Linked DNA regions of Homo sapiens. The protein of the gene in region 1 interacts with the protein of each later gene in a pairwise test. Each region holds a gene or a part of one and is shown in the gene's direction. Other genes may lie near its edges.

Region 1 (3,500 bases):
TCCTTGACAGAGTGCAAATTAGCTAGAACATGAGGAAAGCAGAGGAGTAGAAATAAGGGAAGGGAGAGAAGGAAGATGAGCAAGAAGTAGGTTAAAACCCAAGTAAGGGAGAGTGTGGCCATCATCATGGGCAGGATTCCTGGAGTGCAGGGGTCAGAAAGCCTGGTGTAGGTGAGGTACTCTGTAAAAGCTTACTGCACTGTATGGCATAGGGAACCAACTTCAGCTCTTCACTTCCCTCTCCATCCCTTCAACCAAGCGCACTTCATAGACCAAGTTGTGAAATTTCTTTAGACCAAGAAACACACCTTATTTTTAAAAATTCCTCCCAAAGTGTTGGGATTACAGGTGTGAGCCAGTGCATCTGGCAGACCCCAAATTCTCCCCAGTCCCTAATATACAGAAGCTTATTCAAAGCGAAATTAAGTTATGATTTGAATACCTTTGAAATTATTGTTTGACCCACAGCCTATTTCTATTCTATTTTAGATATTTCCCCCCGAGTCCTTCGCAGACACAGAGGCAGGAGAGGAGCTGTCCGGGGATGGGCTGGTTTTGCCCAGGGCCAGCAAACTTGACGAGTTCCTCAGCCCAGAGGAGGAGATAGATTCTACTTCTGACTCAACTGGGAGCATTTACCAGAACTTACAGGAACTGAAGCAGAAAGGGAGATGGTGTCTGTTGGAGTCTCTCTTTCAGTCTGACCCAGAGAGTGATGAAAACCTCTCTGAAGATGAGGAGGACCTGGAGAGTTTCTTCCAAGACAAGGACAGGGGGATGGTGCAGGTCCAGTGCCCGCAGGCTCTGAGGTAAGGCACTGCAGCTCCACGGCTGCCTCACTCCACACCTCCACACAGGTCACATCGTGTCTCTGGGCTTCATCTTCCTCTGTAAAGCAAAGAGCACTTCTGCAAGTTGCCATTTACTGAGGCTCTAGCTGAGAATCAGCTTTTGGTTCCAAACAGGTGTTCTGATTCCTCCCCAGGAATCCTGAATTACTTTGGGCAACACTTAGTCCAGTGATGCACTGGAATTAATTAAAGGGCAGCCTTTCCTCAGGTGCAGGGGCTCACACCTGTAATTCCAGCACTTTGGGAGGCTGAGGCAGGCGGATCACTTGAGGTCAGGAATTCGAGACCAGCCTGGCCAACATGGTGAAACCCCATCTCTACTAAAAATACAAAAATTAGCCAGTCATGGTGGCGTGTGCCCGTAATCCCAGCTACTCAGGAGGCTGACGCATGAGAATCCCTTGAGCCCAGGAGGTGGTGGTTGCAGTGAGCTGAGATCACGCCACTGCACTCCAGCCTGAGCAACAGAGCAAGACTCTGTCTCAACAAATAAAAATAAAATAAAATTTAAAAATGGGCCGGGCACCGTGTTTACGCCTCTAATTCCAGCACTTTGGGAAGCCGAGGTGGCTGGATCATGAGGTCAGGAGTTCAAGACCAGCCTGGCCAAGATGGTGAAACCCCGTCTCTACTAAAAATATAAAAAAATTAGCCGGGCATGGTGGCAGGTGCCTGTAATCCCAGCTACTCGGAAGGAGAGGCAGAGAATTGCTTGAATCTGGGAGGTGGAGGTTGCAGTGAGCCAAGATCACGCCCAGCTTGGGCAACAGTACAAGACTCCATCTCAAAAAATAAGTAAATAAATAATAAAAAATAAAAAAAAATACAGGGAAGCATTTCCTAAATACACTTTCCCTGAGAATGACAACAAAGTACCTTTATCTTGGTCAAGCCTTAGAAAGTAAATATTGAATGAGATAAAGTGTACATTATCTCATTACTTTATCTTATTTAATATTTACTTTCTCCTCCAATAACCTGGTAAGTAGACATTAATTTTTGCCACTCTACATAGGAGGAAATTGAGGTTTTAACAGAACTTTGCTCAAAGTTTGAAGCAAGATTTAAACCCAGGTCTGTCTGACTCTAAAGCTCTACTCTGCTCATTGTTCTCTCTCTCATATGAAATATTAGAGTGCAAAGTGGCAGTTCTTGGATCAATTCTGAGAAGAGACTTTCCATTAGGGCTGCCAGGATTGTCTGTGGGAAGGTCATGGACATAGAGGCCTGTGGGGCTGTGGTGTTAGGCTGAGCAGCCAGCTGTGACCAGTGGGAAGGGAGGACTGGGGAGGAGGTCTGGAGGGAGCAGGGCCTCCTGACTGCCCTGTCCTCCACTCACAGATCTGCTTTTTTCCCAGGTGTGGCTCCACAAGGCGCTGCAGCTCCCTGAACAACCTTCCCTCCAACATTCCCAGGCCTCAGACCCAGCCACCCTCAGGCTCCCGGCCTCCCTCCCAGCACAGAAGCGTCAGCTCCTGGGCATCATCCATTACTGTCCCTCGGCCATTCCGCATGACGCTGCGCGAGGCCCGGAAGAAGGCCGAGTGGCTGGGCTCACCTGCCTCCTTTGAGCAGGAGAGGCAGCGGGCCCAGAGGCAGGGTGAGGAAGAGGCCGAGTGCCACAGGCAGTTCCGGGCACAGCCTGTGCCTGCACATGTCTACCTGCCCCTCTACCAAGAGATCATGGAGCGCAGCGAGGCCCGAAGGCAGGCAGGGATCCAGAAGAGGAAGGAACTGCTCCTCTCTTCTTTGAAGCCCTTCAGCTTCCTGGAGAAGGAGGAGCAGCTAAAGGAAGCTGCTCGACAGAGAGACTTGGCAGCCACAGCTGAAGCCAAGATCTCCAAGCAGAAGGCCACCAGAAGGATTCCCAAGTCCATTCTGGAGCCAGCCCTTGGGGATAAACTCCAGGGTAAAGACATCCTTGCCACCTTGCTGCCTCCTGCCTCGGGGAACCAATCCCACCATAGGGATTTAGTCAGGGCCCAGGGATCTGCCTGGCTTGGAGATTTGCTGCTTGGGTGGACCCACTAGAGGCTGCACGCTTAGTGCAGGCCATTGGGGAGGGTTAGGTCTGTCTATACAATCAGGACCTGTATGGTGCCAGGAGTGAGAGGTCCCACAGTGTCCCCAAGGCTCGTCCTGTTGACATCTAAGTGAATGCACATGAGGGCCTCTGCACCAGCACAGGTGCAGGAATAGAGAACCAGTGAGACACCTGAGGACCAGCTTGGGCTCATGCCACCACCAGCACACTGCCCTGAGATGCTCCCCCATGGCTCCTTCGTCCTGGTGAGGTAGTGTCAATCGCCGAAATTACCTGGGGGATGATTATTTACACATTTCCAAAAGTATAGCTCCAAATAAGGGGCTCAGGCTTTATTCACTTTTCGGTAGCATGTGCCATGCTCCAGGCACTGTGCCATGGTGAACACACAGACATGGAGTTTGTAGATATGTGAGGAAAACAGATAAAGACAAATACATACAAATGTGGCGAGTTATTTACAAGGATTAAAAGGGGAAGCATGGGAGCATATATCAAAGGGACCTAACCCGGGGATTGGTGAAGCAAGGGAGCAGTTAGGGAAGGTCCCCTGAGAAAGTGGGCCCTGGGGCTGAACTGAAGGAGGGGCGAAGAGGGAGGAGAAG
Region 2 (3,500 bases), on another chromosome or scaffold:
TGATTGTTGCCCACGTGCCGTGTGGTACAGCCTAGAGTCTGAGAACGGGACCCATGGCCCGAGTTCAAATCCCAGCTCTGCCACTCACCAGCTCTGTGACCCAGGGCAAGTCACTCTGCATCTCCGTGCCTTGGTGTCCCGTCTGTGAAGTGTGGCTGGTAGTAATGTCTGTCTTGGAGGGCTGCTGTGGGGGTTTAATGAGTGAATGCGATTCAAGTGCGTGGAACAGCACCTGGCACAGAATAGGGCTCAAAAAGTGTCTGATGTTCCATCCGTCAGAAGATCAGCACCTATGCCAAAGTGAGCGCAGGGACTGCTGCCCAAGGAGAGGAGGCTGGGTGCGGCAGCTCACGCCTGTAATGCCAGCACTTTGGGAGGCCAAGGCCAGGAGATAGCTTGAGGCCAGGGATCGAGACCAGCCTGGGCAACGTAGCGAGACCCCACCTCTACAAAAACATTTAATTAGCGGGGTGTGGTGGCATGCACCTGTGGTCTCAGCTACTTTGGAGGCTGAGGCGGGAGGATCGCTTGAGCCCCAAGAGGTCGAGGCTGTAGTGACCCTTGATCAGCTCCACTGCATACCAGCCCAGGCAACAGGGCAAGACCCTGTCTCTCATAGAGAGCTAGAGAAAGAGAAAGAAAGAAAGAAAAAGAGGGCCGGGTGCGGTGGCTCATGCTTGTAATCCCAGCACTTTGGGAGGCTGAGGCAAGCAGATCACCTGAGGTCAGGAGTTCGAGACCAGCCTGACCAAATGATGAAACCCTGTCTCTACTAAAAATACAAAAATTAGCTGGGCACAGTGGTGCACGCCTGTAGTCCCAGCTACTCAGGAGGCTGAGGCAGGAGAATCGCTTGAACCTGGGAGGCAGAGGTTGCAGTGAGCCAAGATCACACCACTGCATTCCAGCCTGGGCAACAGAGCAAGACTCCATATCAAAAAAAAAAAAAAAAAAGAGAGAGAGAGAGAAGAAAGGAGGGAGGAATACCCAGCTTCTCCCATCCTTTGCTCCCCAAGCTCTTGCCAGGGCTTCCTATTGGCCAAACCCTTTGGCAAGTGTTCTGGGAAATGTAGCTTGCAGGTGGGTGGGGCCTGGAGCTGGGGGCCAACAGGCAGAGGATGGGAATGCCAGTCAGCATGGCTCACCTTAGCTCTCCCCGCTTGTGATGGGTCCTTTTTCGTCTCTTGCTTCTCTCAATCTAACATCTGCTCTTTCCTTAATTCTGGGCTGCATCTCTGTTCTCTCTTTCCCCCTTGCACCTGGTGTCTTTGTCTCTCTTTGCTGCATCTCCCTGTCCCTGTCATTTTGTCTCACTCTTTCTGTTTCTCTGTGTCTCCTCTTCCTCCTTCTCTTCCTCTTCCTTCTTCCTCCCTGCTCCCTCCCCCAATTCCCTCTGTCTCCCCCCACCTCCCGCCCACGTTTTCAGATGATCCAGGCCATCCAGGTGCTGCGGTTCCACCTGCTGGAGCTGGAGAAGGTGAGCGCGTCTCACCTCCCCACACCCTCACTTGCCCCTGTCATCCCACCCCCTCTCGTCGCCTCTGCCCCCCACCTTCCAGCTCTCTCCCCACCGGAGTTGAAGCAGAATGCCGCCCCCGTCCCTGAGCACCCCCGCCCTGCCCCCGTGGGTGGCCCCCCCCAGTACCCCGGTGCCCCCCCAGGTCCACGACCTGTGCGACAACTTCTGTCACCGCTACATCACCTGCCTCAAGGGAAAGATGCCCATCGACCTGGTCATCGAGGATCGGGACGGCGGCTGCAGGGAGGACTTCGAGGACTACCCAGCCTCCTGCCCCAGCCTCCCAGACCAGGTGGGCCCGGGACGGGCACCAGGCATCGTCCTGCAGCCACAGCTGTGCCTGGACACCGCATGAGGGCGCATGTGCACTACACAGCCTCAGACGAAGCCACAGTCAGCCTGATCACAGGGCACGCATATGCACACAGCCACACACCCACTACACAACAGCTACGCAGACTCGGATGCGGCTGGGCAACAGTGCACAGACACACGCACACCAGCGGCTGCAGATGCCACCCACAGATTCAGCTACACCCACACAGGTCCACATACAGCCACACCAACTCAGCAACAGCCATTTCTGCTCACAGCCAGACAGTAGCGTCCACCGGGTACTCACACACGCCCCCCAGCCCAGCCATACGACAGCAGCATAGAACACACAGCCGGGTTCCGCACGCCGTTCTCAATTGAGTATGTGTCCACTGCATACACACACCCGCTCCAGCCACACAGATGGACATAGAGCCAAACAGCCCCAGGTACTGCCCGGCAAACTCAGATATAACCACACTTGGGCCCGGACTGACCACGGTGCCCTCTTGCACACACGTGACCCTGGCCACATCACAGTCGGGCTGCAGCCGAGATCACACGCACACACCACTCACAGCCACATGGCCCCAGACTCATCTACGCAGACTTGGAAATAGACTCACAGGCTCAGATGCGGCCACAAAGAATCAAACCCAGGCCGGGTGCGGTGGCTCTCACCTGTAATCCCAGCACTTTGGGAGGCTGAGGTGGGTGGATCATGAGGTCAGGAGATCAAGACCATTCTGGCTAACACGGTGAAACCCCGTCTCTACTAAAAATACAAAAAAAAAAAAAATTAGCTGGGTGTGGTGGCGGGTGCCTGTAGTCCCAGCTACTCAGGAGGCTGAGGCAGGAGAATGGCATGAACCCGGGAGGTGGAGCTTGCAGTCAGCCAGGATCGCACCACTGCACTCCAGCCTGGGCGACAGAGCAAGACTCCATCTCAAAAAAAAAAAAAAAGAATCAAACCCAGCAAAGCAACTCAGTAAGGTGGCACCATCTCAGACGCAGCCTCACTACAGTTTTATCCACTTAGGACACCAGACGGAAAACACACACAGCACAGCCGTGTGGATCCCGACTTGCCACAGCTCCATACAGAGTACAGGGGCAAAGCCTTGAGAAGTCGCATGAGAGCCACACTCAGGCAATCCTACTGTGAACACACCTGGCAATGACATCTTCACAGCACACGCACACCCACTCCACACCACCTCAGATACACTCCTATGACGACCACGCCACAGCCAGACCCACCCAGACACAGTCCCGGAGACATTTTTTTTTTTTTTTGAGATGGAGTCTTGTTTTGTCACCCAGACCGGAATGGAGTGCAGTGGCACGATCTCGGCTCACTGCAAGCTCTGCCTCCTGGGTTCAAGCTATTCCCCTGCCTCAGCCTCCCGGGTAGCTGGGACTACAGGTGCCCACGACCACACCGGGCTAATTTTTGTTCAGTAGAGACGGGGTTTCACCATGTTGGCCAGGCTGGCCTCGAACTCCTGACTTCAAGTGATCCTCCCGCCTCGGCCTCCCAAAGTGCTGGGATTACAGGCATGAGCCACTGCAGCCGGCCAAGTCCTGGAGCCTTATACCCACTCGCACAGGAATCGCAACAACAGTGTCACAAACAGGACAACCAAACCTTCAAACTGCAGTCACA
Region 3 (3,500 bases), about 39 Mb from region 1:
TCTTCATAGGAAAACTTCTCAAAGAAGTTACCTGTACTTGGCTGGGCGCAGTGGCTCATGCCTGTAATCCCAGCACTTTGGGAGGCTGAAGTGGGTGGATCACCTGAGGTCAGGAGACAGACCAGCCTGGCCAACGTGGTGAAACGCTCTCTCTACTAAAAATACAAAATTTAGCCGGGCATTGTGGCAAGTGTCTGTAATCCCAGCTACTCAGGAGGCTGAGGCAGGAGAATCACTTCAACCCAGGAGGTGAAGTTTGCAGTGAGCCAAGATCGCGCCACTGCCCTCCAGCCTGGGTGACAGTGAGACTCAGTCTCGGAAAAAAAAAAAAAAAAAAGGAAGGTACCTGTACTTGTACTTTGTGTGCTTTCTTGACCCCTTAACTCTTAAACCCACTGCATTCTTTTAGCAGATATTTATTGCATGCCTGTTTTGTGCCAAGTACCGTTGTAGCTTATAGCAGAACACAAAAAAATCTCTGTCTTTGTAGAACTTACACTTTAGTGTGGAGAGAAATAATAAAATAATAAGTAAATTATATAGGTTGTACAGCACCTGCGTAAGTCTGGTTCCTTCATCAGTGTACTAGATCCTATCCTTTGTAGTAGATTCCATTTTTGCCTGCTGAAGGATGTACTCTTGCAGTTGTCCCTTCTCCTGTATCATCAGTTTTTCTTTAATCATTCCCATCAGCATATAAACATGCTGGTATTTCTCCCATCTTAAACTTTCTTGACTTAATTTCCACCTCTAGCCATTCCTCATTTTTCTGTTCCCCTTATAGCAATATTTGTTAAAACAGTTGTTGGTTAAATCTGTACTCGTCTCGAATTCCTGCTTGTCAAGAATCATCAGTGACTGCTATATTGTTAACTTCAGTGGTCAGTTGTCAGTCTTGACTTTGCTTGAAAAATTTTGCAGTTTTCTACAACAGCACTGAGCCATAGTAAAGAAATTAACTTATAGGTTTGGTCTAAGGTTAAAAATTAACATAATAGGCCAGGCATGGTGGCTCATGCCTGTAATCCCAGCACTTTGGGAGGCCGAGGTGGGCAGATCACCTGAGGTCAGGAGTTCAAGACCAGCCTGACCAACATGGAGAAGCCCCATCTCTACTAAAAATACAAAATTAGCCAGGCGTGGTGGCACATGCCCGTAATCCCAGCCACTCAGGAGGCTGAGGCAGGAGAATCCCTTGAACCTGGGAGGCGGAGGTTGCCGTGACCCGAGATCGTACCATTGCGCCCCAGCCTGGGCAACAAGAGTGAAGCTCCATCTCCAAAAAAAAAAAAATTAACAGATGCAGCAGAAATGCAGTCATAAAAGGAATTCAAGGAAACAATTACAGGCTTGTTGGGAAGGAAATGAGACCAGAAAGAGTAAAATAACTTTTGAGAAAATAGATCACAGAATTCAAGAGCTCAGTGAGGCTGAAGTGGAAATGGTATGGCAGTGAGGTTTTGAATTACCAGAAAGGATGATCTGAGAGTATATTTGAGCTTAAGATTTCAGAAAGGGATCAAGTAAAATCTGTGATCTTGTCATAGAACCAAATGGCAGAATGAACTAGAGGTGAAAGTCTTTGGAGTTGCAGGACCCATGGTCACCCACATAAATGTTTATTCATCCTAAATGATTGCAGGACCTTGTGAAGAACACTGTGTACCAGTCACCATAGTCCACAAATAAGTGGGGAGGAATTGGCTGAATGAGACAGCCACGTGCCAATAGCAGGCGAGTTGCAGGGTAATAGAGCCCTGAGTTTTGAGCTTCAGACAGAGGATGAGTTTTTTTGTTTGTTTTCTCTACATTAGGTAGAGAAACAGTGATTATGAGGCTGAAACTCCATGAGGTCAGGGGCTGGGGCTGTCTTGCTCACCCCTCATTCCGTGTCTACTACAGCGTTCTCTGTACATAGTAGGTGCTCAGTAAATTCTTTTCATTGAATGAATTAGGAGCACTCTACAGAGTTCTGTAGGAGAGGTAATTTGAGGAAGAGACTAGCTTTAGCGATAAACAGAAGTAGAGGGAGCATGAGAAATGGTTGAAGATGTAGAGGAGGCTGCTTCAGTAGAGGGTAGTGATTCTTGGTATTTCAGAAAAGTTAATATGCTCAGTGTCTAAGCACAATTGTGAAGGCCTTTTTGGCACTGCAACTATTTTAATTAAACTATTAATATAATATATAGGATGACCTGAGTAAAAGTACTGCTTGATTTTAAAAGTGCTCCCCTTAATCTGTTTTGTTACCAGAAAAAAAAAGTGAACAAGAATTAAAAGATGAAGAAATGGATTTATTTACAAAATATTACTCCGAATGGAAAGGAGGTAGAAAAAACACAAATGAATTCTATAAGACCATTCCCCGGTTTTATTATAGGGTAAGTAGTGTCTAATCAAATGTCCTGCAGAGTTTAAAAATGAAATATAATTTTTGGCAAGGCAGGGTGGCTCATACCTGTAATCCCAACACTTTGGGAGGCTGAGGCGGGAGGATCACTTGAGTCCAGGAATTTGAGACCAGCCAGGGCAACATAGCAAGATCCCATCTCTAAAAGAAATTTTTTAAAAAATAGCTGGACATGGTGATGCATGCCTGTAGTCCTAGCTTCTCAGGAGGCTGAAGCAGGAGGATTACTTGAGCCCAGGAGATCGAGGCAGCAGTGAGCCGTGATTGTGTCACTGCACTCCAGCCTGGGTAACAGAGTTAGACCCTGTCCTCCCCACCCCCAGAAAAAAAAGTAGTTTTAAAAATAGGACCAGAATTTTATGTTTTAAAAATAGAGAATTATATTTTAAATTTTATATATTATTTTATTGTAATTGATCTTATCACTATTATAAAACATTTTGAGCCCAATAAAATCCCAAGTTTAGATTTAAGTGGGTATGTAAACACAAAGTTGTTAAACTGTGGGCTTTTTCTTTCTGATTTTTATTATAGATATTAGTAGTAAGTATTCTATTGGATTATGTTATCAGGTATACACTTTGTTATAAAGTTTTAAAATTTTGCTCAAGGCTAAACCGAAAAATAGATTATGGAAAACCTAAAGAATTTCACTTGAGGCCAGGCATGGTGGCTCATGCCTGTAATCCCAACACTTTGGGAGGCCAAGGTGGGTGGTGGATCATGAGGTCAGGAGTTCGAGACCAGCCTGACCAACATGGTGAAACCCTGTCTCTACTCAAAATACAAAAATTAGCCAGGCGTGGTGGCGCGCGCCGGTAATCCTAGCTACTCAGGAGGCTGAGGCAGGAGAATCACTTGAACCCAGGAGGTGGAGGTTGTAGTGAGCCCAGATCGCGCCACTGCACTCCAGCCTGGGTGACAGAGCAAGGCTCTGTCTCAAACAAACAAACAAAAAAGGAATTTCACTTGATTATTTTTTCCTTGTGCCAAAACTCTGAAAATGGCTATGAAGGGACGTATAGACAAAATAGACCTTAAGAAAAGCTATTCATGGTAGGGTCACTGCACTCCAGCCTGGGTGATAGAG
Region 4 (3,500 bases), on another chromosome or scaffold:
CCTCGGTCTCTGCTCCCTGACTCCCTCCCTGATCCCTGACTACCTCCCTGATCCGTCTGTCCCCCCACCCCCACCGTAGCACTCCACACTGTCCCGGAAGTTCGTGGAGGTAATGACCGAATATAACGCGACCCAGTCCAAGTACCGGGACCGCTGCAAGGACCGGATCCAGCGGCAACTGGAGATCAGTGCGTGTGCCCCCCACCCCAGGACCCCGAACTCCTTGAGGCTGCCCAAGCCCCCTTCCAGGCATTTCCTCTCTGGAGGGGGCCCCTGGCTTAAGGCGGCGTGGGAGGGTGGGCCCCAGGTCCCCGCCCCATCACCCCACCTCAGGCCCCCAGGCTGTCCCAGCCCCCGAGCAGGGAGTCCTTTCTTCCCGCAGCTGGAAGGACCACCACCAACGAAGAACTGGAAGACATGCTGGAGAGCGGGAAGCTGGCCATCTTCACAGATGACGTGAGCCGCGGGTGGGGCGGGCTCTGCTTTTGGAAAATTTTTGCCTCCCCTCCCTAAGTTCAGGTTGAACTAAGGTCCTAAGTCCACCCTGGAAAAATGAGCAGCGGGAAGCCTGAGCCGGGAACTGGGGAATTCCATGGGAGCGGAGCAGGAAGGCACCCCCATCAGATGACGGAGTCGTTCGTGTGCCAGGCACTGTTCTAAGCACTTTCCATCTTCACATTCACCCACCAACTCATTTAATACTCACACATCCCCTTCGAGGAAACCCCATTTCACAGATGAGGAAAACTGGCCCAGAGAGATGAAATCACTTGGCAAGATCTCAGAGCGAGGGAGAGGGCCAGGACTTGAATCCTGTCTAGTTTCAGAGTCAGAACTCTCGAGCCCTAGGATACACGACATACTCTGCTACTGAAGCAAGTCGTTTCACCAGAGAACTGATTTGCCTACATTAAAAGAAATTTTTTTTAATTAAAAAAAACTTTTTTTCTTTTTTTTTTCTTCAAGACGGAGTTTTGCTCTTGTCACCCATGCTGGAGTACAGTGGCGAGATTTCAGCTCACTGCAACCTCCGCCTCCTGTGTTCAAGCGATTCTCCTGCCCCAGCCTCCCGAGTAGCTGGGATTACAGGCGCCCACCACTCGGCCTAAAAAAACCTTTTTTTGTAGAGATGGGGGGTCTTCCTCTGTTGCCCAGGCTGGTCTCAAACTTCTGGGCTCGAATAATCTGCCTGCCTCAGCCTCCCAAAGTGCTGGGATTACAGACGTGAACCACCGAATCCAGCCTAATTTGCCTACATTTTGAATATTTTTTTTAAAACAAGTTTTAGTTTTGCTTAGGTTTTGTCCCCTGTGCTGCCCTTGTCCTTTTACATATGAAAGGATGGGCTGGCCGGGCCCAGTGGCTCATGCCTGTAATCCCAGCACTTTGGGAGGCCAAGGCAGGTAGATCACCTGAGGTCAGGAGTTCGAGACCAGCCTGGCCAACATGGCAAAACTCTGTCTCTATTAAAAATACAAAAATTAGCCGGGCATGGTGGCACGTGCCTGTAATCCCAGCTACTAGGGGGCTGAGGCAGGAGGATCACTTGAACCTGGGAGGCGGAGGTTGCAGTGAGCCGAGATCTTGCCACTGCACTCCGGCCTGGGCAACAGACTGACACTCTGTCTCTTAAAAAAAAAAAAAAGAAAGAAAGGATGGGCTTTCCCCGAACCTAGTTCTTGTTTCTCTCAGTGGACTTTTGCCCCGGCCTGCCCACTCCTGTCTCCGTTTCTGTTTCTGGTGGCAAAATGACTCTGGTTAAGGGTTCTAGACCAGGTTTAAAGGATGCGCTATGACTGTCTTAAAAGTTTTCAGCTCATTGTTATTTGGAGAACTGATCTTTGTTGAAAACGCATTGAGCAGCCCGGTGTGGTGGCTCACATCTGTAATCCCAGCATTTTGGGAGGCCAAGGAGGATGGAGGGCTTGAGCCCAGGAGTTCGTAGACCAGCCCGGGCAACAAAGTGAGACCCCCATCTCTACAAAAAAAATGTTTTTTTGATTTAAAAAACAATTTCTTTTAATGTAGGCAAATCAGTTCTATGGTGAAACCTGCTTTAATTAGCCAGGCATGGTGGCGTGTGCCTGTGGTCCCAGCTACTCGGGAGGCTAAGGTGGAAGGATTGCCTGAGTACAGGAGGTCAAGGCCGCAGTGAGCTATGATAGCACCACTGCACTCCAGCCTAGGTGACAGAGCAAGAACTTGTCTCAACAAAGAACAAAAACCAAAAAAAAAAAAAAAAAAAAGACGGGGAGACTGAACACTGTCCAAACAGCCATTGTATGATTTCGGCTTATAGAATGGTCATAGGATGAGCAGGAGATGAGGGGAGAGGGAGTCTGGGCCTTGACTGCTGAAGGGAAGGTGTGGAGCCTTGGGTAGTGGGGAGCCATGGCAGGCTGTAGAGCAGAGGAGTGGCTCAATGTGGTAAGAACAGTGAGTAATTTGGGAAGTGAGTCACCTGGCTGAGGCTGGGTGTTTGTGGAGAGGAGGCATATCTGACTGTGGGTCACGGTCTCTTCCCCACTGGCTTTCTTTTTTTTTTTTTTTCAGCATGGTCTCACTCTGTGGCCCATGTTGGAGTGAAGTGAAGCAATCATAGCTCACTGCAGCCTCGACCTCCTGGGGTCAGGCAATCCTTCTGCCTCAGTTTCCTGAGTAGCTGGGACCACAGGCGCCACCATGCCCAGCTAATTTCCTTTTTTTTTTTTTTTTTTGATAGAAACAAAGTCTCACTATGTTGCCCAGGCTGGCCTCAAATTCCTGGGCTCAAGTGATCCTCCTGCCTTGGCCTCCCAGAGTACTGGGGTTACAGGCCTCTCCCTACTGACTCTTTTTTTTTTTTTTGAGACGGAGTCTCGCTCTGTGGCTCAGGCTGGAGTGCAGTGGCGCAATCTCGGCTCACTGCAAGCTCCGCCTCCCGGGTTCACGCCATTCTCCTGCCTCAGACTCCCAAGTTGCTGAAACTACAGGCGCCCACCACCACACCCGGCTAATTTTTTGTATTTTTAGTAGAGACGGAGTTTCACCGCATTAGCCAGGATAGTCTTGGTCTGCTGACCTCGTGATCTGCCCGCTTCAGCCTCCCAAAGTTCTGGGATTACAGGCATGAGCTACCTACTGTGCCCAGCCCTGACTCTTTTTTTTTTTTTGAGATGGAATTTCACTCTTGTTGCCCAGGCTGGAGTGCAGTGGCGTGATCTCAGCTCACTGCAACCTCTGCCCCCCCGGGTTCAAGCAATTCTCCTGCCTCAGCCTCCTGAGTAGCTATGATTACAGGTGCCCACCACCACACCAGGCTAATTTTTATATTTTTAGTAGAGACGAGGTTTCGCCATGTTGGCCAGGCTGGTCTCAAACTTCTGACCTCAGGTGATCTACACACCTCCCAAAGTGCTGGGATTACAGGTGTGAGCCATCGTGCCTGACCAATGTGTACATATTAACTCACTCAGTCTTCACAACCACCCTGTGAGGTGGGCAGTGTTATGATCCACATT
Region 5 (3,500 bases), on another chromosome or scaffold:
AAACCCTCAGCATTATACTTTTTTTTTCCTTTGAGACGAAGTCTCGCTCTGTCACCCAGGCTGGAGTGCAGTGGTGTGATCATGGCTTGCTGCAGTCTTGACCTCTCTGGCTCAAGCAATCCTCCCATCTCAGCTTCCTTAGTAGCTGGGACTATAGGCACACACCATCACACCCGGCTAATTTTTGAATATTTTGTAGAGACAGGATTCACCATGTTTCCCAGTCTGGTCTCAAACTCCTGAGCTTAAGGGATCCACCTGCCAAGTCCAAGTGTTGGGATTACAGGTGTGAGCCACCACACCCAGCCAACATTATACTTTTCAAAGAAAGCACTTCCTTTACCTTTTACTGAGTTAGTGGATTGACTGGGTGTAAGCAGGAATCTTAGCTTACTGAAAACCTTTAGCTTCCCACCCCCAGAGCCAAATCGTATCATTGTACGTAGGTCCTAAATCTGGTTTTTCTCCAATACATGTTCAACTGAATGAAAACATACATGCAACTAGGCATACAGAGTAATAATGATCAATTTAAGTTGAGGCTTGAATCATTTCTAATGCACTCTAACCTAACAATCTGAGTCAGACTAATTTGAAGACATAACCTCACCCATTTTTTAGCCTATATGGGGGCAGTTTGTTAGCTTCTAATGAAAAGTGTCATAAATAATTTGGGGTATGGCTATATAAGCATGATTAGCACCTAGTAGCAGAGTCAACAATATTAAGCACCTATAATGTGCAGAGGACCTCTGCTGATTGGGCTGAGGCCCCAGATTTAGCCCAGTATTTTGGCCTCCTGCTTGTTCCACGCCAAACTCCATACTTGCAACTCCAGGATTAGGTCAGGGAGGGGCTGTGCAGGACATGGGTAGAGGCTAGGGACATGAAAGGGTGGTTGTGTCCCTCTTATTTGTTTTCATGACTACTAGAATTCTCGTCTGGCATGTTGCACCCTGCAAGGCCACCTCTGGGAAGTACTCCTGTAAATCAGAGTGACTTGATTGCTTTATGAACATATCATCTGAATGGTGCAAATTGATTTAGATAAAACTGATTTAGTTAATCCCTTCCCTAAGAGCAGGGAAACTTGCTTCAACTCGCAGATCCTAAAGTGGTGCCAGTGGAGTCTCACAATTGCATCCAAATATTGCTCTGAGTAGTGAGCCTGTCCATTCCTTCATCCCTCCTCCCATAAAATCTGCTGACACCACAATAATTGACAAGGGAACTACACAAGGAGTATGTCTGTCTTCATCATTCAGCAAACCTCATTGGCTTGGTGAAGAGGAGAGAATGTTGTCTTCTCATTCTATCCCATAGAACTCAAGCTCTGTCTTTTCAGACAGGGACACAGAGCCCTTAAAAGGGTGAAGACAGGGCTGTGGGCACAGAATATGTCTCAAATGGCTGCTCTTGGAAATACCTGCTTGGTCTTGTGTGTGTCTGCCATTCAATCTTTATGAATCTTGGTAATATCCTTGCTGTTAGGCCATGGGGCTCGGCTGCTAGTAGAGGCCAGGGGGTGCTCCATTTCCATTTAGCATTAAGTTTTTGTCCTCTCTTTGGCACAAAAGCGAGAATGAAGCTCTGTGTTCATGAAGCACTCCTTACTCATTAAGCTGGGTGTCTTGACTTAGAACATTGCATCATCAAAATATGAGATGTAACATGTTGATACTGGATATACAACAGTTTTGGATAATTCAAAATTGTTTACATTTTGATAAATGAAATTTTGGTACCAAGATGGTGTTGCACTAACATCTGTACTTCAGGTCTCTCAAAAAATATTGTGTTCATCACTAAGCAGTGTACAGAAGAGACTAGAAAAGTGTTTCTCAACTGGTGTGTTGGGTCATGCTAGCAAGTGAGAAGACCAGATGAGTGGTGTTGAGACAAGAAATTCCAGCTGTAATTATCTTCTTGTACAGATAGCTAATCTACTTTTTATTTACCTCCTCAATATATTAAATATGTTCCTTTCTCCACTTTCATGTATTAAAACTCTGCTAAGAGTTTTCTGTGGGCTTAAGTAGTCTGTGGCTGTTTCTATTTGTTTCTCTCTTTCTGTCTTCCCCTTCTTTATGACCATAGGCAGATATAATCCTTTTGATGATGAATCTCCCAGATGCTGAGTTTTCTTTTAGAAATTCTATAAATTACTAAGACTACTAGATAGTATAAGATGCTTAAAGTGTGGGTGGTGGAGGGATTTTGAGTAATGTGCCAGCATCCCATTATTTCCTTTTCCTTGTGGGATTCACCTGAATACACTCTAGGATGCTGGTTCAGCCTAAGTGGGTTGGCAAAGTATCATTTGTAAGCATTATCCTACTTGGGTTCTGGCCTCCCTGCAGAGCTCTGGCTGCCTGACCTTGGGCTTTGTCTCAGCTTCCTTCCCGTAGGTCAGACTCCGCTGGTTGATGAACGGCATCCCCAGTCTCTGGATCATCGTCTTACTGAGACCGAACAATCTGATAACAAACCCATCATACAATCTGAAATCGTCCTGAAACATGAAATCCCAGTATTTGCAATTTGCCTGGATAGGAGCATAATGTATGGGCATGGCAGACAATGCTAATTCATGACAGTGAAGTGTCTTAATATATACAGCACAGAGATAGAAAAATGGTTTACGATCCAGATCCTTGATCACTTTGTGTATAGCCCTTTGTTCAGTGTTGCTAGGATCCATGTGGTTCCCAGGGAAGTAGAAGCTTGATTTCAAATAGGCCTCTGTTCTCTGTCCCTTGTTTCTGACCTGAACTTGGGGTCCTCTCAGCCTAACATTCAATAACATGTCTTACATACATATATTGCCATTTTTATTGTGTAGATGACTGCCTGTCCAGGTGAACCACTGAACATTTAAAAACTTACAAATATTTTGTTGGGTAACAGAGGTTAGGAAAAGCAATCCTAGAGGAGATGGAAAGCTGTACCAGTAGTCATAGGTAAATTAAGTTTGTTTTCCATTTGTTCCTCAACCCTGCAACTGCCAGTGTAATCTGCATTAAGATAAAGGTGTTATGAATTGTATTTAGGATTCCTGTCAATTATCATGTGTTACCTTGGCAAATCCATTTGTTGGTTACTTGGATTAACCTTTTGGGTTTGTAGCAGATTTAGGACTTCTAGTTCTGCTATTTTGATACTCATTTTAATGTTTATATGATGACTATCTTGTATAAAATACTCAATGTTTGGATTTAAAAACTAATTATTGAAAAGAACATACATTAATTCCATGTACTATAAAATATTAAGTAGGCTTTAATAACCTATTAGACAGGAGCTGGCACTGGTGCTCTCTGCCAGTCGGTAATCAGCCTCCAGTTCTGAGTTCTCCCTGTGCAGGATGAAAGTTTAAGAGAAAAGAAAAGAGACAGCCCTTCACTTGGAGAGGGGTGGGGATCCCAGTCTAAAAGTGAAGACATGAGCATAACAAATACCATGATCAGTCCCATGATCTTCCAGAAGTCTTGTGGAGGAGT
Region 6 (3,500 bases), on another chromosome or scaffold:
CGCCACGCCTGGCTAATTTTTTGTATTTTTAGTAGAGACGGGGTTTCACTGTGTTAGCCAGGATGGTCTCGATCTCCTGACCTCGTGATCTGCCCGCCTCGGCCTCCCGAAGTGCTGGGATTACAAGCATGAGCCACCGCACCCAGCCTATCTTCTGAAAGTTTTATAGTTTTAGTTCTTATATTTAGGTATTTGATTCATTTTGAGTTAATTTTTGTGTATAATGTGAGGTAGGGGTTCAGCTTCATTATTTTGCATATATGTATCTACTTGCCCCAGCATCATTTGTTGAAAAACTTTTTTTTTTTTCCTCTGTCGTCCAGGTTGGAATACAGTGGCGTGATCTCGGTTCACTGCAACCTCTGCCTCCTGGGTTCAAACCATTCTCCTGCCTCAGCCTCCCAAGAAGCTGGGATTACAGGCACCCGCCACCACGCCCAGCTAATTTTTTTTTATTTTTAGTAGAGACGAGGTTTCACTATGTTGGCCAGGCTGGTCTCGAACTCCTGACCTCGTGATCTGCCCGCCTCGACCTTCCAAAGTGCTGGGATTACAAGCATGAGCCACCGTGCCTGGCCGAAAAACTATTCTTTGACATCAAATTATTTTTGTACCCTTGCCAAAAATCAATTGACCATATATATGAGGTTTTATTTCTGGACTCTATTCTATCCCGTTGGTCTCTGTATCTATCTTTACACTAGTACCACATTGTTTTGATCACTGTAGCTTTGTATTAAGTTTTGAAATTGTGAGTTCTCTCACGTTGTTATTCCCTTTCAATATTGTTTTAGCTCTTCTAGGCCCTTTGCAATTCCATATGAATTTGAAAATCACCTTTTCCATTTCTGCTAAAAAGGCTTTGGAATTTTGGTAGGGATTGCATTGAATTTCAAGTTAATTATCTTTTAAAGAGATTTAAATAAGAAAAATAAGTACTTTATATTTGCCTATTTAATTATCATTTCTTCCATGTAGATAAAGATTTCCATATGGTATTATTTTTCTTCTGCCTGAAGGATTTTATTTAGCATATCTTTAAATACCAATGCATATCTGCTGTTGATAAATTCTTTCAGCTTTTGTATCTCTAAAGTATTTCACCTCTATTTGTGAACAGTTTTCAGTGAGTATAGCATTCTAGTTAAGTTTTTTTGTTTTGTTGTTTAAAAGATGTTGTTCCACTATCTCCTGGCTTGTTAGAGAAATCAGCTGTCATTTATCTTTGCTCCTCTTGAGTCATGTATCCTTTTTCTTCTGGCTGATTTAAATATTTTTATTATATAATTGGTTTTAAACAATTTTATATTATGCCTTGGTGTAGTTTGCTTCATATTTCTTGTGCTTGGTGTTGACAAGCTGCTGATATCTGTGGGTTTATAATTTTCATCAAATTTGGAAAATTTTCAGCTATGATTTATTTCTTCAATTACTTTTTCTATTTTCCCCTTTTTCTCCTTTGGGTACTCCAATTACTCCTTACATAAGGCTTCTTGAAATTGTGTCATACTTCATACTTCACCAATGCTCTGTTTGAGTCTTGCTTTTGTCTTTTAGCCTTTTTTTCTCTGTGTTTCATTTTGGATAGTTTGCTGTGGTTTTTCAAGTTGACTGATCTTTTCTTCTGCATTGTTTTATCTGCTGTGAATCCCATCCACTGTACTTTTCGTCTCTAGAAGTTCTATCTGGATCTTTTTCTGTCTTCCTCATTTGTGCGCCTTTGCCTGCTCAGTGGTAAGTGACGGGATGCCAGCCAGTGGACCTCACCTGTTGGGAGATGGATGTTTTTGTATTCCTTCATGTGTTCTTGAGCTTTGTTCTGGGATGTAGTTAAGTGACTTGGAATCAGATTGATCCTTTCAGGTTTTGTCTTTATGCTTTGCTCTGTGGTATCAGAGCAGATTTAATCCAGACTAATTTTTTCAGGCCCTGGGAGTGCTCCCCAGCTGCCTGTGCATCAGGAGGGCTCTCCTCTGCTGTTGGGAGCAGGTACTGTTTTTGGCTGGTATAAATGGTGGGGATTGCTTTCTCTGCCCCCTCAGTGGTCCTTCAGTGACTTCTTCAGCTCTGTGCTCCCTGGTCCTCAGTGGAGATTCTGGCCCTGTGTGCAGGTCTGCCTAGCTTGGCTGCCCTGCTGCCATCTTCCGCCATCTTCCAGTCCCTCCTTGACAGGGTCTGCCACGCCTTGCCTCAGTCTCCCATTTTTCCATGGCTGGGAAGTTCTTTTGGTGGAGGGGGCTCCTGGAACTCCCCTCCTCCTGTCTCTCACTATCTAGTGCCCATGATGTGAAAACCACTGCTTATTATTTATTTATATTCTATCATTGCCTGGTTTTTTTCTTTTTCTTTTTTTTTTTTAAGTTTTCACACAGAAGGTAGTTCTAATTTCTGCAACAATCTCATCTTGGCTGTACGCGGAAGTCTGTATCTCAGTGTGTTTGAAAAGCTGCCCAGGAGTGTTTTGGGCCCCAGGCTGGGAGCTTAAGCAGAGGAAAAGATCCAGGGCTCAGGCCAGGAGGCTAGGACTTGAATGTCGTGTCATGGCATTTAGCTGTCATACCTGGAGGAAGCTTCTGAGGTGATGTCTGCATCCCCAGCTCCAGGCTCGTGGGTGTGTTCTGAGCAGCCATGTGTGCTGGACCCTTCATTTGGGTCCCTCCTGCTTGTCAGGAGGCCCAGATGGTCTGGCGCTGCCCATGCCGCCTGCAGCCGGCGGGCCCTTCACCCAATGAGGGACTTGGGGCCTGGCTGCCACTTGGGTGGGGAGCCTGCAGCTGGGGCCAATTCCATGTCCGGTTTCCCTTCTTGTGGCCCGGGGTGGCTGGCCAGGGTGGATGAGGTGCTGTGTAGACATTATGATTTGGACCTTCCTTGGGACTAGGATAAGGAAGAACAGAGCAGAAATCACAGAGCTGACCCGATTGCCTTGAAGAAAAGCGGACATCTTCCACGTAGTGGGTGTTGTGTTGATGGGTGGGGGCAGGTGAGCAAGACCCAGCCTCCTCAGGAGTGTGGGTGCCATAGACATCTGTGCATCCGCAGCAGGAGTGTCCATGTCAATCCCGAGTCCCCCCGTGCAGTCCCATTGCCAGCACCAGTCTTCCTGCTGGGCTGTGTTGTCCTGTTAGCCTTGTTTAGGGGTGTCCCCCGCAACACCACGAGACACACACACACAACACATACATCACAGCACATGTCACCACACCTGCCATAGCACATGTGTGCTCTTCCAGGCAGGATCCTGTGATCCTCACAGTGCTGTAAGATCAATCAGTCTGTCTTCCCCTTGAGTCCCCTGTTGGTCCCATGAGAGTCTATACTCAGACTAGACCCTGGTTTCTTTTACCAGTCTCCTGTTGGGACGAAATGAGTTACTCTTTGTTTTGATTTCTTGAAATTAGAAACTGTCCTGCTCAGTAACATCCTTATTCATGGTTTTTTACATTTTCCCTATTTTCTTGGACTGAATTCTTAGATTTAATATTAAATAGTAAATGAGT
Region 7 (3,500 bases), on another chromosome or scaffold:
CTTTAGGTATGCATTAGGCATCAAAGATTAAGATTAAGAATGATGTAAGATCAGGTGTATAGTGGGGAGGTCCAGGAATAGAAAACTTTGTACATGTGTCCTGACTATATGGTACAATGCAAGGTGGTAGAGATGACAGGGGCTGGAGGTAAGGAGTGTGGTCTGGGTCTGGTTTAGGGATGTCTGGGTCTCCCTTGTAACTCATCCCACCCCTCCCTGCTAACCAGGGCAATTCTGGAGGCTCCAGTGACAGAGCCCAGGTTCTTGGAGCAGCTACAGGAGCTGGATGCCAAGGCAGCCGCAGTCAGAGAGCAGGAAGCTAGAGGCACAGCAGCCTGCGCAGATGTCAGAGGCGTGCTCGATCGGCTCCGGGTCAAGGTGGGAAGTAGGGATGGATACCCTGGAGGCTACTGGAAGCAGCCTTCCCAAGATCTTCACTATGGATTTCCTTGGCAGAGCTCACTGTAGCCTGTCTCCAGGGACTTCACCCTGCCTTTTCTGGGCAGCCCCATTCTTGTCTCTCTGGGTTTCCCTGAAAATCTTGAGAAATACCAAAGAGATATTCACCACCCTTCTGCCTATGTTTACCATTTGTTGCTTCCCCCAGTTCCTCTCATACAGCAAAAGGGTTGCAGCTTCATGCCCTGTGTTTGGTTCCCCACATCTAGGCAGTGACGAAGATCCGAGAGTTTATCCTCCAGAAGATTTATTCCTTCAGGAAACCCATGACCAACTATCAGATCCCCCAGACGGCCCTGCTGAAGTACAGGTCACAACCCCAAGGAAGTGCATGGGATGGCCTTTGAGTTTTTGAGCGGCCTAGTGTGGGCATCTGGTTTCTTGGGAGACAGGTAGACTGACATGTTCCTGACCCCCTAGGTTCTTCTATCAGTTTCTGCTGGGCAATGAACGAGCAACAGCAAAGGAGATCAGGGATGAATATGTGGAGACGCTGAGCAAGATTTACCTGTCTTACTACCGCTCTTACCTGGGGCGGCTCATGAAGGTGCAGGTAAGGTCAGGAGGGAGAGGTATTCCTGGGCACATGGACTGGGAGGAGGGGACATCCCTGGGCAAGGAATATTTTATTGTGTTGTGGGAAGAGACGGTTATCAGTTCTCTTTTCTCTTTCCTTAGTATGAGGAAGTCGCTGAGAAAGATGATCTAATGGGTGTGGAAGATACAGCAAAGAAAGATATCCTAGTACTGGGGAACCCTCATGCCAGGCCTTGAGAGTGGGAGGACTTTCGACTCCAGCCACCAATGCACTGCTCCTTACCTTTTCCTATGGGACTGAAACCTTTTAGAATGTGATGAAAGCTATAGCCTCCCTCCCCAGAAAGATGCACACATTATTTTGACACATAGTTTTGCATATGATTGCAAGGGAGGGAGAGACACCCTGAAGCCCATTCACAGATGTCAGCACGTGGGGCCCTAGTACTGGGAAAGAGGGCTGGCTAGGCCACGTCTGCCTGTCTGGGGTCCCCACAGATAGTGAGTCTTTGGGCCCAGTTATGGTCTCATTGTTTTCCCTGACTCTGACCCATCTTACGATTCTTCTCAAAGCCATCGCTCCGCAGCAGGAACACCATTTTCACCCTAGGAACCCGCGGCTCTGTCATCTCCCCCACTGAACTTGAGGCCCCCATCCTGGTGCCTCACACAGCGCAGCGCGGAGAGCAGAGGGTATGAGGAGGAACAAGCTTCAGTCACGAAAGAGGCTCTGAGCACGGTGGGGAGGGAAGGCCAGACCTCAGGGCAGAGCTTCCCAACCTGCAGGCCCTGTCTTAATCCCCTTAGACTTGGGAGTGGCCTTCTCCAATCACTCCAGCCTGCTGTGATGTGAAAAGAGCTGGGAACCATTGACTTAAGGGCATGCAGAGGGGAGAGACTGGATGAGGGGAATGACAGTCAGAGGCAGGTGTTGAGGTGGATGCAGGAGTAGCAACAGCAGGTGGGTGTAGGCCCTTTTTGTACCCCTATGTTCCCCCACCTTTTCAGTGCCCATTCAGCTTGCTCTTAGACAGCCCGGACCTAGATAGATGCGAAGGGTCTGCCTAGCTCTTATTACTCAGGTTTACTGATTTTCCAGCCATATCCATGGGAAGTCAGTGTTGGGGTCCATCCCTTCTGTTTTTCTTCTTTACTCCTCCTCTCCCAGTATCCATTTGAGGCCCTCTTCCGCAGCCAGCACTACGCCCTCCTAGACAATTCCTGCCGCGAATACCTTTTCATCTGTGAATTTTTTGTTGTGTCTGGCCCAGCTGCACACGACCTGTTCCATGCTGTCATGGGCCGTACACTCAGCATGACCCTGGTAAGACTCCTGTTTCCTGTACCATTCAACACCTTTGTCCCCAGTCTTCATCAGCAGCATAGTGGGGTCATGACTCTGGTAGAACTGAAATCAGGATCGCCTCATTCTAAAATGTCTAAGCCTTGGCTGGGCGTGGTAGTGCACACCCATAATCCCAGCACTTTGGGAGTCCAAGGCAGTAGGATTGCCTGAGCTCAGGAGTTTGAGACCAGCCTGGGCAACAACCTCATCTCTACAAAAAATGAAAAATTAGCCGGGTGTGTGTTGATGTGTGCCTGTGGTCACAGCTACTAAAGATGCTGAGGTGGAAGGATTGCTTGAGCCCAGGAGGTCAAGGCTGCAGTGAGCCATGCACTCCAGAGTGAGACCTGTCTCAAAAAAAAAAAAAAAAAAAAATAGCCAGGTGCAGTGGCTTACGCCTGTAATCCCAGCACTTTGGGAGGCTGAGGCGGGAGGATCACAAGGTCAGGAGTTTGAGACCAGCCTGACCAACATGATGAAACCCTGTCTCTACTAACAGTACAAAAATTAGCCAGGTGTGCGCGGCCTGTAATCCCAGCTACTCGGGAGGCTGAGGCAGGAGGATTGCTTGAACCTGGGAGGAGGAGATTGCAGTGAGCCAAGATTGCGCCATTGCACTCCAGCCTGGGTGACAGAGCGAGACTCCATCTCAAAAAAAAAACTTGTTACTTAGACTTGTCACAGTGTTACTCCCCCATGAAATCCTCAGTGCGTAGGGTCCCTGAGACTACCCCTACTGCTGACCCACAATCAGGCAATAGCACGTGAAAACTGAGGGTCCCCCAAATCTTGGTGCTCAAACCCCTGACCCAAGCTCAGCCCTGAACTCTGCTGTGATAGGCTTGTGATCATAGATCCTGGTGTGGCCAGGTGCAGTGGCTTATGCCTGCAATCCCAGTACTTTGGGAGACCAAGGCAGGAAGGTTGCTTGAGGCCAGGAGTTCGAGACCAGCCTGGGCAATGCGGCAAGACCTTGTCTCTACAAAAAATTTAAAAATAAACTTAACCAGGCATGGTGGTACACACCCATGGTCCCAGTTGCTTGGCAGGCTGAGGTGGGAACATCACTTGAGCCCAGATGTTTGAGGCTGCAGTGAACTATGATTGTACCATTACAATCCAGCCTAGGTGACAAAACAACCTGTCTCTAAAGCCGAAA

Evidence for each region.
Region 2: the proteins of FAM161B (region 1) and MEIS3 interact in binary tests that used the Homo sapiens proteins (3 or more experiments, as listed by UniProt).
Region 3: the proteins of FAM161B (region 1) and PPP2R3C interact in binary tests that used the Homo sapiens proteins (3 or more experiments, as listed by UniProt).
Region 4: the proteins of FAM161B (region 1) and STX1B interact in binary tests that used the Homo sapiens proteins (3 or more experiments, as listed by UniProt).
Region 5: the proteins of FAM161B (region 1) and MID2 interact in binary tests that used the Homo sapiens proteins (3 or more experiments, as listed by UniProt).
Region 6: the proteins of FAM161B (region 1) and BICD2 interact in binary tests that used the Homo sapiens proteins (3 or more experiments, as listed by UniProt).
Region 7: the proteins of FAM161B (region 1) and VPS52 interact in binary tests that used the Homo sapiens proteins (3 or more experiments, as listed by UniProt).

What each region holds. Positions count from the first base shown.
Region 1 is NC_000014.9:73,943,595-73,947,094, reverse strand, and holds part of FAM161B (protein FAM161B), read left to right. Parts: intron 1-489; coding exon 490-809; intron 810-2,209; coding exon 2,210-2,760; intron 2,761-3,500.
Region 2 is NC_000019.10:47,413,028-47,416,527, reverse strand, and holds part of MEIS3 (homeobox protein Meis3), read left to right. Parts: intron 1-1,426; coding exon 1,427-1,477; intron 1,478-1,661; coding exon 1,662-1,811; intron 1,812-3,500. UniProt on the Homo sapiens protein: Transcriptional regulator which directly modulates PDPK1 expression, thus promoting survival of pancreatic beta-cells. Also regulates expression of NDFIP1, BNIP3, and CCNG1.
Region 3 is NC_000014.9:35,115,491-35,118,990, reverse strand, and holds part of PPP2R3C (serine/threonine-protein phosphatase 2A regulatory subunit B'' subunit gamma), read left to right. Parts: intron 1-2,253; coding exon 2,254-2,381; intron 2,382-3,500. UniProt on the Homo sapiens protein: May regulate MCM3AP phosphorylation through phosphatase recruitment. May act as a negative regulator of ABCB1 expression and function through the dephosphorylation of ABCB1 by TFPI2/PPP2R3C complex.
Region 4 is NC_000016.10:30,993,639-30,997,138, reverse strand, and holds part of STX1B (syntaxin-1B), read left to right. Parts: intron 1-79; coding exon 80-188; intron 189-382; coding exon 383-456; intron 457-3,500. UniProt on the Homo sapiens protein: Potentially involved in docking of synaptic vesicles at presynaptic active zones. May mediate Ca(2+)-regulation of exocytosis acrosomal reaction in sperm.
Region 5 is NC_000023.11:107,828,866-107,832,365, forward strand, and holds part of MID2 (probable E3 ubiquitin-protein ligase MID2), read left to right. Parts: intron 1-3,500. UniProt on the Homo sapiens protein: E3 ubiquitin ligase that plays a role in microtubule stabilization. Mediates the 'Lys-48'-linked polyubiquitination of LRRK2 to drive its localization to microtubules and its proteasomal degradation in neurons.
Region 6 is NC_000009.12:92,730,334-92,733,833, reverse strand, and holds part of BICD2 (protein bicaudal D homolog 2), read left to right. Parts: intron 1-3,500. UniProt on the Homo sapiens protein: Acts as an adapter protein linking the dynein motor complex to various cargos and converts dynein from a non-processive to a highly processive motor in the presence of dynactin.
Region 7 is NC_000006.12:33,265,377-33,268,876, reverse strand, and holds part of VPS52 (vacuolar protein sorting-associated protein 52 homolog), read left to right. Parts: intron 1-227; coding exon 228-378; intron 379-668; coding exon 669-769; intron 770-879; coding exon 880-1,012; intron 1,013-1,137; coding exon 1,138-1,195; intron 1,196-1,555; coding exon 1,556-1,689; intron 1,690-1,803; coding exon of another isoform or gene 1,804-1,869; exon of another isoform or gene 1,870-2,145; intron 2,146-2,164; coding exon 2,165-2,320; intron 2,321-3,500. UniProt on the Homo sapiens protein: Acts as a component of the GARP complex that is involved in retrograde transport from early and late endosomes to the trans-Golgi network (TGN).